Regions from separate parts of the Homo sapiens genome. Here region 2 is linked to region 1. A link means that fine-mapping ties the variant in region 1 to the expression of a gene that starts in the linked region. Tissue or cell type: fibroblasts. Region 1 holds a variant in brackets; the other region holds the start of a gene. All regions are shown on one strand. Distances are between the middles of the regions.

Region 1 (8,261 bases):
GATGCTAGTTGCTGGGGTTAATGGCAAGAAAGTCCTGGTCTTTGACCTGAAGAAGCTCACAGTCTAGTGGGGAAGAAAGAAGTTGAACAAGTAATTCCAAGGGGGCAACATGAGCAGCACTGCAGGCATGAGGCAGAAGTCTCTTAGCATCCCCAGGAAATAACTCATCCTTGTTTAGCAGATGGGCCACCCAAGGCTCAGAGAGATCATTGAAGCAAGTAAGAGTGTCGTCAGGGAGTGAACATCAGACATCTCCTTCCCAAGCCTGTGTTCCTTCTACCAGCTAAGTGAAGGGCCTGCCATGTGCATGTTGCCAGGGTAAGGGAAACTGTGGCCTCCCCCTTACTAGTTGGGTAGTCTTGAGTATGTCATTCAGTGTTTCTGGGTCTGGGTTTCTTGGGAATGTTACCTTTTTAGGGGGTTGTTCAAAAGACGAGATTAGATGGCAGAGGTGAAAAGTGGTGTGACTGAAGTTGTCTGTCTGACTAAAGCTGAAGTAGTCCAAAGTCCAAACTCTGAAGCCTGGAGTCTGAAATCCAGGGTCAGGAGTCTGAAGTCTGAAGTCAGAAGTCTGGTCTGGAGTCTGAAATATGAAATCTGGTCTGGAGTCTGAAGTCTAAAATCTGAAATCTGGGTCTGGAGTCTGAAGTCTGGTCTGGAGTCTGAAGTCTGGAGTGAATCTGAAGTTCGAAGTCTGATCTGGAGTCTAAAAGTCTCCTGTTGTCTGGAGTGTGGAGTCTCTTGTCTGGATTGTGGAGTCTCTTGTCTGGAGTGTGGAGTCTGTTGTCTGGAGTGTGGAGTCTGTAGTCTGTCGTGTGGAATGTGGAGACTGGAGTGTGTTGTCTAGAGTCTGTTGTCTGAAGTGTGCGATCTGGAGTCTGGAGTCTGAAGCTGGAGTCTGAAAGTCTGTTGTGTGGCATGTGGAGTCTGTTGTCTAAAGTCTGGAGTCTGAAGTCTGGAGTCTGAGGTCTGAAGTAGTCTGACTAAAACTGAAATAGTCTTTAAACTAAAAACTATCTTTCTCGTGCTCATTGGTACTATTGTTATGCAGTTGAACACAGTGTTGGTAGAAAAGGAGAAGCAGAAAGAATGTAGATTAAACTTTGATTCCCATCTTGCCTTTCCTTCTGCTGGAGCCACTTCAGATGTTTTCTTTTTTTTTTTAATATATATATATATATATATATATATAATACTTTAAGTTGATTTCTTAATCTAAGTAGAGAGCAGCTTTAACTTGCTTTGAAAAAGCATTTTATTCTGCACAGCAAAGGAAAAAAATTAACAAAATGAAAAGAACCTATAGAGGTGGGTAAGGGGGAGGCGGGGGGATGGGTATGGTTAATGGGTACCCAAAAAATAGTTAGAAAGAATGAATAAGACCGACTATTTGATAGTACAGCAGGGTGACTATAGTCGATAATTTAATTGTACATTTTAAAATAACTAAGAGTTTAATTGTATCATAAGACAAAAGATAAATGCTTGAGGGGATTTTCTGTGACACAATTTGCCTGTATCAAAACATCTCACACACCTCATAAATATATACACCTACTATGTACCCACAAAAATTAAAACAAGATTTTAAACTTTATAGTAAAATAAAGAAAAAAAGAACCTATAGAATGGGAGAAAATTTGTAAACCTTATATATAATAAAGGGTTACTATCCAAAATACATAAAAAATTCAATTCAATAGCAAAAAAACAAATAACTGGATTTAAAGTGGGAAAATAATCTGAATAGATATTTTCCCAAAGAAGACATAAAAATGGCCAACAGGCATATAAAAATGTGCTCTACATCACTAATCATCAGGGAAATGCAAATCAAAACCACAATAAAACATCACCTCATACCTGTTAGGATGGCTAGTACCAAAAAGCCAAAAGATAAGTGTTGGCAAGGATGTGGAGAAAGGGAACTGTTATACATTATTGGCGGGAATGTAAATTGGTATAGCCATCATAGAAAACAATATGGAGTTTCCTCAAAATATTAAAACCAGAACCACCATATGATCCAGCAATCCCTCTTCTAGGCATATACCCAGGGAAAATGAAATCAATATGTCAAAGAGCTGTCTACACTCCTATGTTTATTGCAGCATTATTCACAATAGCCAAAATTTGGAATCAACGTAAGTGTCCATCAATGAATGAATGGATAAAGAAATGTGGTGTATACTACACAATGAAATAGTATTCAGCCTTAAAAAAATAAGGAAATCTTGCCATTTGCAACAACATGGATGAACCAGCAGGACATTATGCTAAGTAAAATAAGCCAGTCACAGAAAGACAAATACTGTATAATCTCACTTACATGTGGAATCTAAAAAAAGCCAGACTCATAAAAACAGAGTAGAACAGTGGTCACTAGGAATGGTGGAAATGGGGACATTGGTCAAAGGGTACAAACTTTCAGTTATAAGATAAATAAGTTCTGAAGCTCTAATGTACAGCATGGTGAGTGTATAGTAATAATATATTGCATACTTGATATACTCGAAATACTTGGTATTTGCTAAGAGTAGATCTTAAGTGTTCTCACACAATGTAACGTGAGATAATGGACATGTTTATTAGCTTGATTGTGGTAATCATTTCACAATGTATACATATATCAAAACAAGTTGTACACTTTAAATATATTAAAATTTTTGTCAGTCATACCTCAATAAGCTAAAAAATTTTTTAAAGCATTTTAATGATTGAAGAAAAATGATTGAAGAGGTAACTTGCAATAAGAGTTACTGAAGTGCTGAATGCTTCTGTACTTCAGAAGCATCACAGAAATGCAGATCATGCTGTATATGCATATATTTTATATGACTGAGTCTGCTTTCTATCTAAACATTACTCTGTTTCTATCTAAACACTACTCTGCCTAGTACTTTTTGTGTGCGCAATATCATCCTGAGCTTTGGATATTCCCAGTTTTCCAGACTTTTCTGGGCTCTGGAAAGGCACAGTCATAGCTATATTTAACTGCCCTATTATTCCTTTGGAAACACGGGCATATAAAAATAAATAAATAAAATAAGAGAGAGTCCCAGGGTCACAGAATGTGTAGCAGGAGAGATTCCAAAAGGAGGGCTGGTCTGTAGGGTAGGATCGCATGGAGAAGTGAAGAATAAGGACTTTCCAGATACCTTGATGTGAGGTGCCAGATCCCACAGGGGCTTAGAGTCACTGACTTCCTGTTTCAAGCACCCAGGAAATTGCAAAGTGACCAAGGCAAGGAAATACCCAAAGATCAGCTTCCAATTTTTGCTGGTGCAGCCTTTTCTGTCACACCACACATTGCTGTGCGTTGTTCATTGTCCAGTCATTCATCCGCTGAATTTCCATGAAGTCACTTCCATGGGCCAGATACTGTGCTAAGCAATTGCAGGGGGCGGGGAGGCGGGGGGGTAGGTATAATTCAGGAGGGGACACGAGGTGCTCGTATCAGTAATTATGCCAAAAGCAGG[A/T]TGCCCAGAGGGAATGATGACTAAGGGAACTCTGAGTCCTTCCTGAGTCCCTAGGTCTCACTTCAGTGACTGAGAATGGACAAGGGCCTGCCTAGGTCTCTCCTAGCCCCTGACTACACCTGTATGTTAGGTCGGCTTGTCCCACAGGAATGACTTGAGCGAAGCAGAACAGAAGAATGTAAACATTTTGTTTTAACAACAAGGTGGGGTTATGCTACAGTTTTGTTTTCTTGGTAACAAAAGGCACAGCCGACTTCTCATCAGGCTGACTCAGGGCTGCCGGCTCATCCTGGGTTTCATATCACATCAGAGAACTCAGTGTTCCTGTCGTGTCTTGTGGGTGACCAGCTATCCCAATTTCCTCAGGACTATCCTGGTTTTAGCCCTGAAAGTCTTACTTACATCATGAGCACCTGGAGTGGCTGACCACCACCCAGCAGCATCCCCTTCTAGTAAATTCTGCAAGGCACTAGTGTGGCAAAAACATGGATTTTAGCATCAGATGGACTCGGGTTCAAATCCTTGTGTGTGCTGTGTCACTTACAAGCTGTGACATAGGGAAGTTACTCAGTATTTCAAAACACAGACACTATTCACTTCATGTACTCATTACCCGGGCCTCATCTCAGCAGGCGCCCACTTCCTTCGTGCTCATTCACTCCATGTCACTGGGCTCCACCCTCTTCCTCAAACAGGCAGAGCTCATTCTGCCACTTTGCCTTTTCTGTTTCCTCTGTCTGGAAGGCTTGAATCTTTCCGGGTGGGCCCTTTCTTGCCCTTTAGTTCTCTGCTTCACTGTTATCTCCTCAGTGAGGTCCTCTCTAAACACTCAATGAAGACTACCTCCCCAACACTCCCAGATGCTCTTCGTCTTATCCCTGTCCTATTTTCTCTCTAGCACTGAGTATGATCTGGAATTGTCTTGTTTCTTGACTGTGGGAGGCAGCCTTCTAAAACGGCTCACAATGATCCCCATTTCCTGGTATTCAAACCCTGTGTAACACCCTCCCCTTCAATGGGCCACCTAGGGACTTGTTCCTAACAAATAGGATATGGTATAGTGATGGGATGTCACTTCAAGATTGGTCATAAAGGACCATGACTCTTGTTTTACCGGCACTCTCCCTCTCGTTCTCTCTCTCTCTCTGGCTCTTGCTTGCTTGCTTACTCTGATGAAGCAAGCTGCCCTATTGTGAGCTGCCCTAACAGAGAGGTGCATGTGGCCAGGATTGGCAGTAGCCTGTAGCCAACACAGCAAGAAATGGAATCCTGCCAACAACCACATGAATGACTTTGAAAGCCAATTCTCCCCTAGTTGAGCCTTGAGATGAGTGCGGCCTGTGAGAGACCCTGAAGCAGAGGACCTGCTAAAGCATGCCCCAACTCCTAACCCACAAACACAGTAAAATAGTAAATGTCATTATTGTAAGTCACTAAGTTTTGGGGTAATTTGCTACGCAATAATGGATAGCTAATATATTGATGTATTATTTATTCCCCCTCTAGAATACTAGCACCATGATAGAAGGTACCTTCCCCATTTGGTTCACTTTGGTATGCCCAGAGCCAAAAACAAAGTCTGGCACATAGTAGGTGCTCAATTTCACTGAATGAGAAAATCATGAGGGCACAGGCTGCACACAGGCCATGTAAGGACAGATGAAAAAAATATTTATTGAATGAATGAGTGATTTTGAGACAATTAAATATGAGAAGGGTAGGGAAAAAAGAGAGTATCTGAGCTTAATTTTAACCATTGCTATGGTTTGAATGTGTCCTCCCAAAAATTTGTGTTGAAAACTTAATCCCCATTGTAACAGTGTTGAGAGGTGGGAACTTTAAGAGGTGATTATATGGATTAATGAATTAATGTCATTATCATAAAGTGGGTTAGTTATCACAGGAGTGGGCGCCTTATAAAAAGGATGAATTTTACCCAATTTTCTCTCTGTCTTGTGCACTTGCTTCCACCTTCTGTCCTTCCCCGCTTCTGCCATGGGACGACCCACACTAGATGCCGGTGGTGCCATGCTCTTGGACTTCCTAGCCTCCAGAACCATGAGCTAAATAAACTTCTTTTCTTTATAAACTACCCAGTCCATGGTATTCTGTTATAGCAACAGAAAATAAACTAAGACAATTATCAAGTGGTTAGACCCCTACTGTGGGCTCAAAAGATGTTGAAAAAGTTAATGAAATGAAAAATGAAAAAAATGAGGTATAGGTTAGAAATGATAAGGATGGTGTTGTCACATTGAGTGTGAAATGCCAGTAAAACATCTCATAAGCATTCATAAATAAGTCTAGCTTTTCACAGAATATTAAATGAGAAAAGGAGTTCCTAGAATAGTGTATATATTCCATTTTTGTAAAAGCACACACATAAACACAAGTCTGGAAGGAGATACAGTCATGCAACTCCTGATGACACTTTGGCCAACAATGGACCACAGATACAACAGTTGTTCCATAAGATCATAACAAAACTGAAAAATTCCTATCACCTAATGATGTCATAGCCATCAGAACGTTGTAGCACAATGCATTGCTCATGTTTGTGGTGACGCTGTACGTAAACAATCCTACTGCACTGCCAGTCTTACAATAGTATAGCATATATATTTATGTATAGTACATAACACTTAATCATAATAGACTATTACTGGGTTTATGTATTTACATACTTTTTATTGTTAGAGTGTACTCCTACTTATTTTTTTTAAGTTAACTCTAAAATAGCCTCAGGCAGTTCCTTGAGGAGGTACTCCAGAAGAGGGCACTGTTATCATAGGAGATGACAGCTCCGTGCGTGTTATTGCCCCTGAACACCTTCGAGCAGGATAAGATGTGGAGGTGGAAGACAGTGATATTGATGATCCTGACCCTGTGTAGACCCAGGCTAATGTGTATATTTGTGTCTTTGTTTTTAACAAAAAAAAATTAAAAGTAAAAATAATTTTTTAATGAAAAAAGCTTATAGAGTAAGGATATTTAAAAAGAAAATATTTTTGTCCAGCTGTACGTGAGTTTGTGTTTTAAGCTAAATGTTGCTTAAAAACAATCTAAAAGTTGTTAAAAGTTAAAAAGTTCATAAAGTAACAAATTACAGTAAGCTAAGTTTAATTTCCTATTAAAGAAAAATATTTTTTATAAATTTAGTGTGCCTAAGTGTAGTGCTTACGAATTGTACAGTAGTGTGCAGCCGTGTCCTAGGCCTTCACATCCATTTACCACTCACTGACTCACCCAGAGCAACTTCCAGTCCTGCAAGCTCTATTCATGGTAGGTGCCCTACACGGGTACCTACCATTTTTTATCTTTTATATTGCATTTTTACTGTACCTTTTTATGTTTTGATATATTTAAATAAACAAATGATTCCCATTGTGTTACAATTTCCTGCCTTATTCAGTACAGTAACATGCTATACAGGTTTGCAGACTAGGAGCACTCAGCTATACCATATATCACAGGTGTGTAGTCAGCTATACAATCTGGGTTTGTGTAAGTACTCTATGATATCTGTACAGTGATGAAGTCACCTAATAAAACATTTCTCAAAATATATCCCCACCATTAAGCAACACATGGCTGTATACCAAACTAAGTGCTTCTTCGTAGTGCAATTACAGTGTTTTTAAATTATTTCCTTTTGGTTTTCAATATTTTCTACAATTGAAAGAACAAACAATATAGGAATTTCCACTTATTCTTAAAAATCAGAGAAAAAACCCATGATGGATGGAAGAGTCAGTATCACAGAAGAAGTCACTGACAAGGAGGAGGTAACCCAGTGAGAGGGAGAATGAGAGAGAGGACAGTGGTTGTTGAGAGCAAAGCCCTAGTGTCATTTCTAAAGCAAAATTTCTGGCTGGATAGGAGAAACAGCATTTGGTCTTGACCATCAATGGCATGCCAACTCCCAGGCTGCCAAGCTCACTCTACCTCATCCTGACAGCTCTCTTTTTCTGAAACATTTATCAGACCTGCCTTTCGAATCCATTTCCTGCCAGCACGCCAGCCCAGCCTTTATTTTTCTCACACTTGCATTTCTACTGCCTCCTGCTAGCATCCAGCTTTCCCAGTGCTTTGAGGCTGTCTCATGCTCAAAAGCTAGAATAACATCCCCTGGTTTTTTTGAACATCCTTCTCATCTTAGCCCCTGCATAAAATCATGAGCTGCAAGACTGCCTCAGCCTTTATCACATCTCCCAACACAACCTGATTGACACTTTCACTTCCCACTGGGAAGCCAGCATTTTACCTCCAAGATAACCACCACGTGTTTCACCAAGTTTTGCTTCAGAATTAAGCCGATGATGAGCCCTTTCATGGCTACACAGATTTCAGGCTTACCAGTTACTCTGGCAAACTATTTTTGAATAGCCGTCCAGCAGTTCACATGTATTTGTTCCTATTATCTTACGTTTTATTTTCTCTGAAATAAAAGCAAAAATAGGCAGTACACACCATGTTTGTAAAGCCAGCTTACTAGGATCCTAGTACTCTCCAGTAGCTGTGCTACAAATCTAGTTTCCCTAATAATGAAAGCATGGAAGACCAAGTGCCGGGTACTACAGTGAATTGGCACTCACTTTTGAAGAACACCCAACAGATAGCCAAAGTGGTGGAGCTTCAAGTCAGGCTTCTTTCTGCTGGGACTGCAGAGCTACTTTCTCTAGAATGAGGACCAGGTCCTACCTGCAGCTCTGAAGTTTAGAGAACAGAGTCTTTCCAACTGGATAAAAAATAAAGGAAAGCTTCTCCAAAATTGTATAGGTG
Region 2 (8,261 bases), 110 kb before region 1:
ACTCCTAAAACCTGCAGGGTAAACCATTAAAAGAAAGAATGTGCCATTACTCAATAAGGAGCAGGGAGCACCATGCATACACTGTCTGAATGCTGCAACTCTGCTGCCTCTTCTATTCGAAATTAACCAGAAATCCGAGAACCTGAAAGCTGAGTCCTAGCTAACATTATTTAAATGAACTGGCTGTTACACGAACCTTAAACCACATGTCATTTGGTTGTGGGGCTGCCATGGGCCAAGAGACATTAATACTGATGGTTCCCAGCTCACAAATGAACTGTGTTCGTGTGTTTGGAAGGCTGTGGTTTGAAAGGCAGAATGCACTTTCCCATAGAAGCAATTTTATAAATGGCAATTAGGGCTACAAGCCAGCTCACAAAAAGCCATGTAACCATAATATAGCTAAACACCATACATTTTAGCCCAACAGAGTGGAAATCAATAGTGTTACAATACTAATAATTAAAGGATGAGATAAAAAAGTACTAGTGCTTAGGCAAAAACAGATTTAATTAAAGGAAGATGAAAATGTCTATCCAGTTAGGCAGAGGGACCAAGGAAAACTGGGACTGTTAAGTCAGGAACCCCGACAGTTGGGAATCAGACCAACTTGCAGGATTTCTGTCAATTCTAAGGAACTAGTGTCTGCATGTGAAGACCAACCTAGCACCCAGAAAGGAGTTTGGGGAGGGGGTGGAATGGAGGGTTAGGACGACTGAAAAGAAGTTAGCCTAGTCATTCCTATGCAGCTATTTCATCAGCCAAGATGGGACCTGGCTTCAGCGTTCCTCCCCTCTTGGGTGATTATTCCTATTTATAACAAAGCCAACCCTGGCCCCAAGAACCACTGGAGTCCAGAAAGTTTGGTGTCTTTTTCATACTGATTTCTGAGATCAGACAAGCTCTTGGATATTCACACAGCCTGGATGGATTTTTACCTCCCTGCCCTGCCCTCATGTAGATGAACCTGCTCTTGCTATCCCCTTCACAGAGGAGAAGTTCTGCCAGTTGCATGGAGTCTCCCTCTGCCATCCTATTCCACATGTGACCAGCACTGCACCTGGCTGGAGACATTCTGAATCATTTATTCTAGCTTAATGCTAGGGATCAAATACACATTTTATCTGGGAATATGAAAAAGACATGAGATATCTGTATATGGTATATGAAATATGAAAAGATGAGAAATGAGGAAAGGAGTAAATTGAAAATGGAAGTTACTTGAAAAAGATCATTTGTAAAGCAATACAATGGCATTCTGCAAGATCTAACCATTAGGTGGCACCACTGGCCCAAGGAAGTTTGGTGGCCCCAAGAAAGTGGAGGAGAAATGGGGAAAATTGCTGAGTGGTCTAGGGTAGGAAGGCTGGAGGGAGCCACTGCGGAACAAGTAACTGAACATATACAAGCATTCCTGTGAAGTGTGTACTCTGAATTAATCCACATATTAATAAATTCAATCATTAATTCCCTTAAAATTATTTTTAAAGTCTCATAATTTTATTTATACAAATTGATTTATATCCCTTGCCCATTTCTATTGATCTACGCTTTTTAAAAATTAATCTCTAGCAGTTCTACTTATTCTGAGTACTAGTCCTTTGTCAATGAGTTATATACAAATATATTCTGGTTCATGGCTTGCCTCTTTTTTAACCGCAAGTTTCTGTTGTACAGAAATTTTTCATTTTAATACAGGCAAACTTTTTTCTTTGCCATTTGTTCTTTGTGAGTCTTGTTTAATATATCTTTTCTTATCTTGAGACCATAAAAACATTCTTTTAGATAAACTATTGCTTTCTAACCACCAGTTTTGTGCTGGTATGGTATAATTTTTTTTTCTTATGGATAAACCAGTTACTAAATAATCTATTTTTTTCTGCTGATTTGCTACTCCTCTCATGAAACTAGTTTTCCATAAATGTATGTGCCCATTCTGTTCCTTGAGTCTGTTGATTCCTGCACCAAATATGACAATCAACTGACTAGTGATTCTTGACCCCACCTTGTTTCTCAAACACATTTACCACATTAGCTAATTTCTTCCATTACATCATTACAACCACCTCAGGACTCTACATTGCGGGACATGAAGAAGGATGCACAGACTACAGATAAAATGCTGAAGAGATTAGTGTTAAGCAGCAGAATACAGTTCATCTATTCCAGGACAGAAGACAGAGTCAGCCGCCAACCATTTGATTTGGAAAACAAAATTTCAAATTAATTAACCTTGTTTCAGTGAACTACTCCAGAGAGCATTGCCTAACTGACTGGGAAATTAAATATTCATTCTGAATATCTGCAATTTGATCATAGAAGAAACCAGGTATAAGAGGAGGATAGATTAGAGCAAAGCCATCGTTACTGATGGGGAAGAAATGCACTTTTTGAGTTTTATTCTGATATGATTGCTGAGCTGAAGCCAGAAGGAAGATGATACCTTTGTGCATACATGGGTCTCCAGTGAAGTATGTGGGTCTTTTTGGTGCCAATCAATCAGGAGAGAGAGTTTCAAATCTGGGACCTGAGACTTATATAACAATAACAGGTCAGAATTTTATAGAAAGGGAACATCTATCTCCATATGGACTATTTTCATTTTATTATTTTGCTGCCTTGGGAGAATCTAGATGAATGTGAGGATATCCTGGGCTGGAGAGAAAAAATGGCTCTTGCCACATGAAGGCAGGCCACAAGATAGGTAGAGAAGTAACATGTCCAAATGAACCCACTATTTTTGTGTCCCCAAATCTGCTGCTCTTTCAATGTTCCCATTCTCAGCAATGGCAGCACTGTCTGCCCAAATGCTAGACTGCCCAAGCCACATGCCTGGGCACCATCCTTGGAGATGAGTCAAGTACAGTAGATTCTATTACCTAGATCTCCCATCCCCAAACACATCTCTCCATCTCCCCTCCACTCTGTCCCCGCACACACTCTCACCACCAAGGCCACTGTCATCCTTAGAGCTGAAACTACAGCAATAGCTTTCTGGCTGGTCTCTCTGTCTTGAGTCATAGTCATAGCCCTCTTCCCCACTCTTGAAGCCAAAAGGCAAGTCTGGTAATGTCATTTTCTTGCTTAAAACTCGGTAATGGCTTCTCATTCTCCTGAGGCTACAGTCCAAACTGTTTAATATGATTTATGTGGATCTGGCCCTTGCTGACCTTCGCAGCTACTTCCTTGAGAGATTAAGAACCCAGACCATGAAGTCAGTTTTGTCTGGGTTCAAATTCCCACTGCCCCACCTATTAGCTTCAAAACTTGAACAAACTTCTGGACCTCTCTGTGCTTCAGTGTTCTCCCGTGTAAAACACGGACGGTCACAATGCCCACCTCACAGGATTGTCAGGAAGACTGAATGAGCTAACACAGGTAGAGTGCTCAGGACGGCACCTGGCACACGGTAAGCATTCTATCAATGTTAACCATGATTTTTATTTCTCCAATTCATTATGCCTTCTCCAGCATTCCGGCCCTTGCATCCACTGTTCTCTCCATCTCAGACACTCTTTCCAACACACTCTGATCATGCTACAAGGTAGTCTTCAGATGTAGGTAACAGCCCCAGCGGCACCTGAAAACTTGTTCAAAAGACAAATGCTCAGGCTCCACCCTAGACCTACTATATTAAAAACTCTAGGGCTCAACTCCAGCAATCTGAAGATTTTTGTTTTGTTTTTTGATAGAGTCTCGCTCTGTTGTCCAGGCAGAAGTGCAGTGGTTCCATCACGGCTTACTGCAGCCTGAACCTCCCGGGCTCCGGCGATCCTCCAGCCTCAACCTCCTGAGTAGCTGGGGCTACAGGTGTACCACGCCCAGCTCACTTTTGTATATTTTATAGAGATGGGGCTTCACCATGTTGCCTAGGCTGGTCTCAAACTCCTAGGTTCAAGCAATCCGCCCGCCCTGTCCTCCCAAAGTGCTGGGATTAAAGGCATCAGCCACTGTGCTTGGCCAGCACTCTGAGTTTTAACAAACTCAGCATTCCTCCATAGGATTCTGATGCCCAGTTAAGGCTGGAAAACCAAGGCACCATCCGTGATAAATTGTACTTAGATGCTTATTTTTCTCTATCCCCTGTTAGGCTCTACGTTCCACAATGGCAGAGAAATGTCCATCTTGGTCTGTTCACCTCCTTTGTAGGTGTTGACAAATACGAGCCATCACAAACTGGAAAGGGGTAAGCTGTATTTCGTAGGACACATCATCTAATTCTGTGCTCCTCTTTTCTGTTTCCCCAAATCAACACCCAGGTATTTCTAAAGGCTTGCCTAAACGTTCCAGCTTGTTCTCAACCTTGAAGCCAGGCTTAGGCCTAAGTTGTAAAGGCGGGAGGGGAGACCCTGGAGGTAGAGGGGCAAAGGCAAGATGCTTGCGTCGCAGGGGCCCTGCATGGCCTGGAGCAGCATAGGGGCCAAGATGGTCTGCGCTCTCCCTAGATTGGAGTTTCTCTCCTTCATCATCTTTGGAGGAAGCACAGATAACTGAGGAAAGTCTGTATCTGCACAGCCACCCGAACTCCTGCCTCCTAATAAACACCTCTGAGGGAGAGGAAACTCTCTCTCTCTCTTCTCTTCCTCCCCAGCACCCCTCGCCCCCCCACCGCCATTTCTCACTCCTCTACTCCCCTCTCTCTCCCTACCCACCTCTGACCCCTCCTCCAGTCCTGCCGCCCGGTAACAAAACCGGGGTTCCCGCCACACGCACCCGGTAGGGCTCAAGACGCTTTATCGGCGACAATGGCTGGCTGAATGGGAGGCCTGAGGTTCTGAAGGAACCGGGGTGCTGGCGACCGGGACCTCGAGGCCGCTGCTGGGGAGGACGCTGGCCAGCGTGCAGGGGGCGGAGGCGGGGCGTGCCGGGAGGCTCCCATCTCCCGCCCCGCACAACCCGGGCAGGGCCGCCGCTCCGCCGCCGCCGCAGATCCGGCTCTCACCCTCGGCTCCCGAGGCCCCGCGGCGCCTCCTTCTGCGGACTCTGCGGGACCCTCCCCGGCAGGCGCTGTGCCCTGGAGAAGGCACAGTGGCTCAGGCATGGCCGCGGGGACGGCGGCGCGGAAGGCAGCGCCGGTGCTGGAGGCCCCCCCGCAGCAGGAGCAGGTACTGGCGCGGGGGCGCGGGCGTGGGGGACGCCAGGCCGGGGTCCCGGGGCTCACGCTGGTGCCGGGCAGGCTGCACAGACTGGTCTCCAAGACCCCGGGCCCCACCGGGGAGAACCGGCCCTGGAAAGACGTGGGGACGGACGCATGACCTTCTGGAAGATGCCACCGTGCGGGGTGCCAGTCCCTCCTCCACTCCCTCCCTCCCCACTTCTGTGCCCTCCCCGCTACCTTCCTTTCCTCCTTCTGATCCTCTTCCTTCGCTCCATCCCTCTTCTCGCATCCTCGCACTTTCTCTTCCAGGCTCACCCCTTCCACTCCCGCCCTCCTTTGTGACCGCCTGTGCCCTCCTCCCTCCTCGGCGGAAGCCCCCAGAGCCCAGGGTCAAGGTCGTAAGCTGCGAGAGAGGGGAAGGGGTGTACTGCAGGCTTTTGGCTAGACCGCCCTGGTTCTCAAACTCGAGTGTCATCAGAATCACTCGGAGGGCCTGTTACCACGCAGACTGCTGGTCTGTGCCCAGGGTTTCTGATTCAAGATGTGTACCCTGATCGTCAGCTTGTCTTGCCTGGTGCTCAACCTAGCCCATTTCTGCTTCTGCTGGCGTCAATTGCAAACCCAATCTTAATTTATTCTTCGTTCATAGGACAATTCTTCTTAGGCTACATCCAGGTACCAGGAGGATTTGGGGGTGGAGGAGGGTAGGTCTTACCTGGAGGAACCCAAATCCCATCCGTAAAACGAGGACAAAAATAACTCTTAAGGGCAAAGATAACTCTTAAACAACAACAAAAATCACTCACAGAGCGGGTAGGAAGAGATTAATGTCCCAAAATAGGTTCAGGCAAAGAACTGTAGGATTTCTGAGAAGGGCTTGCTCCTGACTAACCCCCTTCTCCTCCAACCCGTGAGGGCGTGGCATTCGAGCTGGGTGTTGGGGAATGGACAGGATCTGACCTCATGGGCCAGAGAATTCTAGATGGAGGGAACAACAGTACCAAATGGCTTGGAGATTTTTTTTTTTTTAATATTGGGATGGATGGCCATGGGACAAGGCAGAGAGAGGGGACTGTCCACTCTGACTGCCAGAAACCTAGGGGTCAGGAATGCTTATAGCAAAAAATAAGGGTGGGCTAGGCTGTGGAGGGGCTTGTGTACCACAAAATGGGGAAACTTAAAATGAAACTCCATGACTTTCTTGCTGGTTTCAAACCCAGATTATCGAAAGGGAGGTTCTGAATTGATGAATGCATGCCAGGAGTGTCAGAGGATCTAGTACTGGTGGATTTGCTGCTGATCTTTGCTCTTCCTTAAGGCTGGCATCACTGCCTAGTCTGCTGCCCTCAGGAGGTATGGCCTCTCTGTTGAGGCTGCCCTAGGAGGGACTCACAGCTTTTCCCTTAATCCCATATGGCAAGACAGTGTGGTCCAGGAACCAGCAGCCAAGGCATTACCTGGGAGCCTGTTAAAAATGCAGTCTCAGTTCCCACGCCAGACCCACTGAATTGAAATCCGCATTTTAACCAGATCCCAGGGTGATTCATTTGCACATCAAAGTTCAAGAAGTGCTGGTTTCTTGACTTTACTAGAGCTAGGGATAAGAAAGTGAAAACAGAGATAGTTACTGACCAGCCTATTATCTGATAGCTTCCCTTTGGTTTGAACCTCACCCTATTTTATTTTCCTTCATCACCCTTATCACTACCTGAAGTATGTCTATGTGTGTATTTGATTGTCTAAGAACCTCCTTCAGCATGAAAGCTCCAGCAGAAAAGCCATGTGGTCTGCCTTGCTCGCTCCTGTATTTCCAGGACCTAGAACAGTCTCAGCAAACGGCAGGGCCTCAATAAATATTTATTGAATGAATAAATGAACAGTAACGTACAATCTTATGATGTAAGACCCTAACTCCAGCATACCTTACTGGACAAACACCATCTCCCTATTCCCCATCCTCCACCTCCCCAGCTACAACCCCTGGGGTCTTTTGAGCCTGCAACTGGTTAGGTATGTTTGAAACTCCTAAAATTTGGAGTGTGAGAGCAGAGACCATGGGTTTAGGAGTTCCCTCTTCTGCTTGTCTAAGGCTTGCTTTCCAGGCTCGGATTTCTCCTGAGAGCTGAGAGGACCCACCACTTCCCCAAAACTGCTCTCTGCCTGGGGGCAGGCCATACACAGCCCCTCCTCTCCACCCACAGGCATGCAGCCTTGCCTTGTGACATGAATTCCTTACCAATGAATACAGCCCTCTAAACCTAACATTCCTACCTGGCACTCACATGTGGTCCAGGGTCATCACTAGTTTCTGAGTTCATTGTTCTGGCTTTGCTACTTGGTTTAGAAAGATTTTTCTAACAGGTGGGTTTTGTGAGGGAAGAGTTGAAAGTGACAAAATCAGTTTGGAGGCAGCAGTTCAGGTGAGAGATAATGAAAGCCAATCGGGGTGGCAGTCTCCAAACACATTGAGTGTGCCATGCACCAGACATGAGGATTCAGTGGGGGGATGAGGCCAGCGCTGGCCACCTACAGATTCAGGTAAGTAAATAAGTCATCAACAATGCAGTCTGGTAACAATGTTCAAGGTCAGTATATATCCTGGTAGGGGCCTCACCGAAAGGGTGTCCTGGAGTAAGTGGGATCCAAGGGTGAGCAGAAATGAGGCAACCCAGCATGGAGGCTGGGAGTGGAGGGAGAGCATTCAGGGACAGGAAAGCTCTGCTTGGCTGGAGCAGAGGGTGTGCAGGGGCAGTGGAGAGAGGGGAGGCTGAAATGGGATACAAGGCCTTGTGAGCCATGTTGGATTTCAGGCAGGAAGACAATAGGATCAGTCTACCTTTAATGGGAACACTCTTACTGTTTGAAGAGGGAAGAGAGCGAAGGCAAGGGCCTCAGAGGAGGGGGACACCCTGCATGCTGGCCTCCATCTCATCTTCCCCTAGCCACCCTATCTAAAGAGTGACAGCCCTTGCCCTCTGCTGGTAATTCTTTATCACACATTTTATTTTCTTCATATAATTTACTTCATTAGGCAGTTGTTTTGTTTGCTTGTTTATTGTGCATCATTTCCTCTAGAACACAAGGTCCTATTCATGAGAACAGACACCTTGTTTGTCTTTCTAACCCTTGAATGCCAGCTCTTAACCCAGTGGCTGGCACATGG

Alleles and levels. Alleles are on the strand shown, and positions count from the first base shown. SD is a standard deviation of normalised expression in the study named.
For the expression in fibroblasts of the gene that starts at base 4,878 in region 2, allele T in region 1 goes with a lower level than allele A (moderate effect, 0.66 SD a copy in GTEx).

The links. PIP is the estimated chance that this variant, and not a neighbour inherited with it, causes the effect.
Region 2: RNF175 starts here. The variant in region 1 is fine-mapped to the expression of RNF175 in fibroblasts (GTEx, PIP above 0.99).

The regions. Positions count from the first base shown.
Region 1 is chr4:153,647,655-153,655,915 of GRCh38, reverse strand. It overlaps the pseudogene LOC100419170. Among named protein-coding and RNA genes, the nearest start is that of TLR2, 32 kb to the left of the region's middle. The variant A/T (reference allele first, on the strand shown) is at 3,480.
Region 2 is chr4:153,756,641-153,764,901 of GRCh38, reverse strand. It overlaps RNF175 (ring finger protein 175), which reads left to right and starts at 4,878. Exons shown (of 9, transcript NM_173662.4): 1 at 4,878-5,105. The coding sequence starts at 5,040.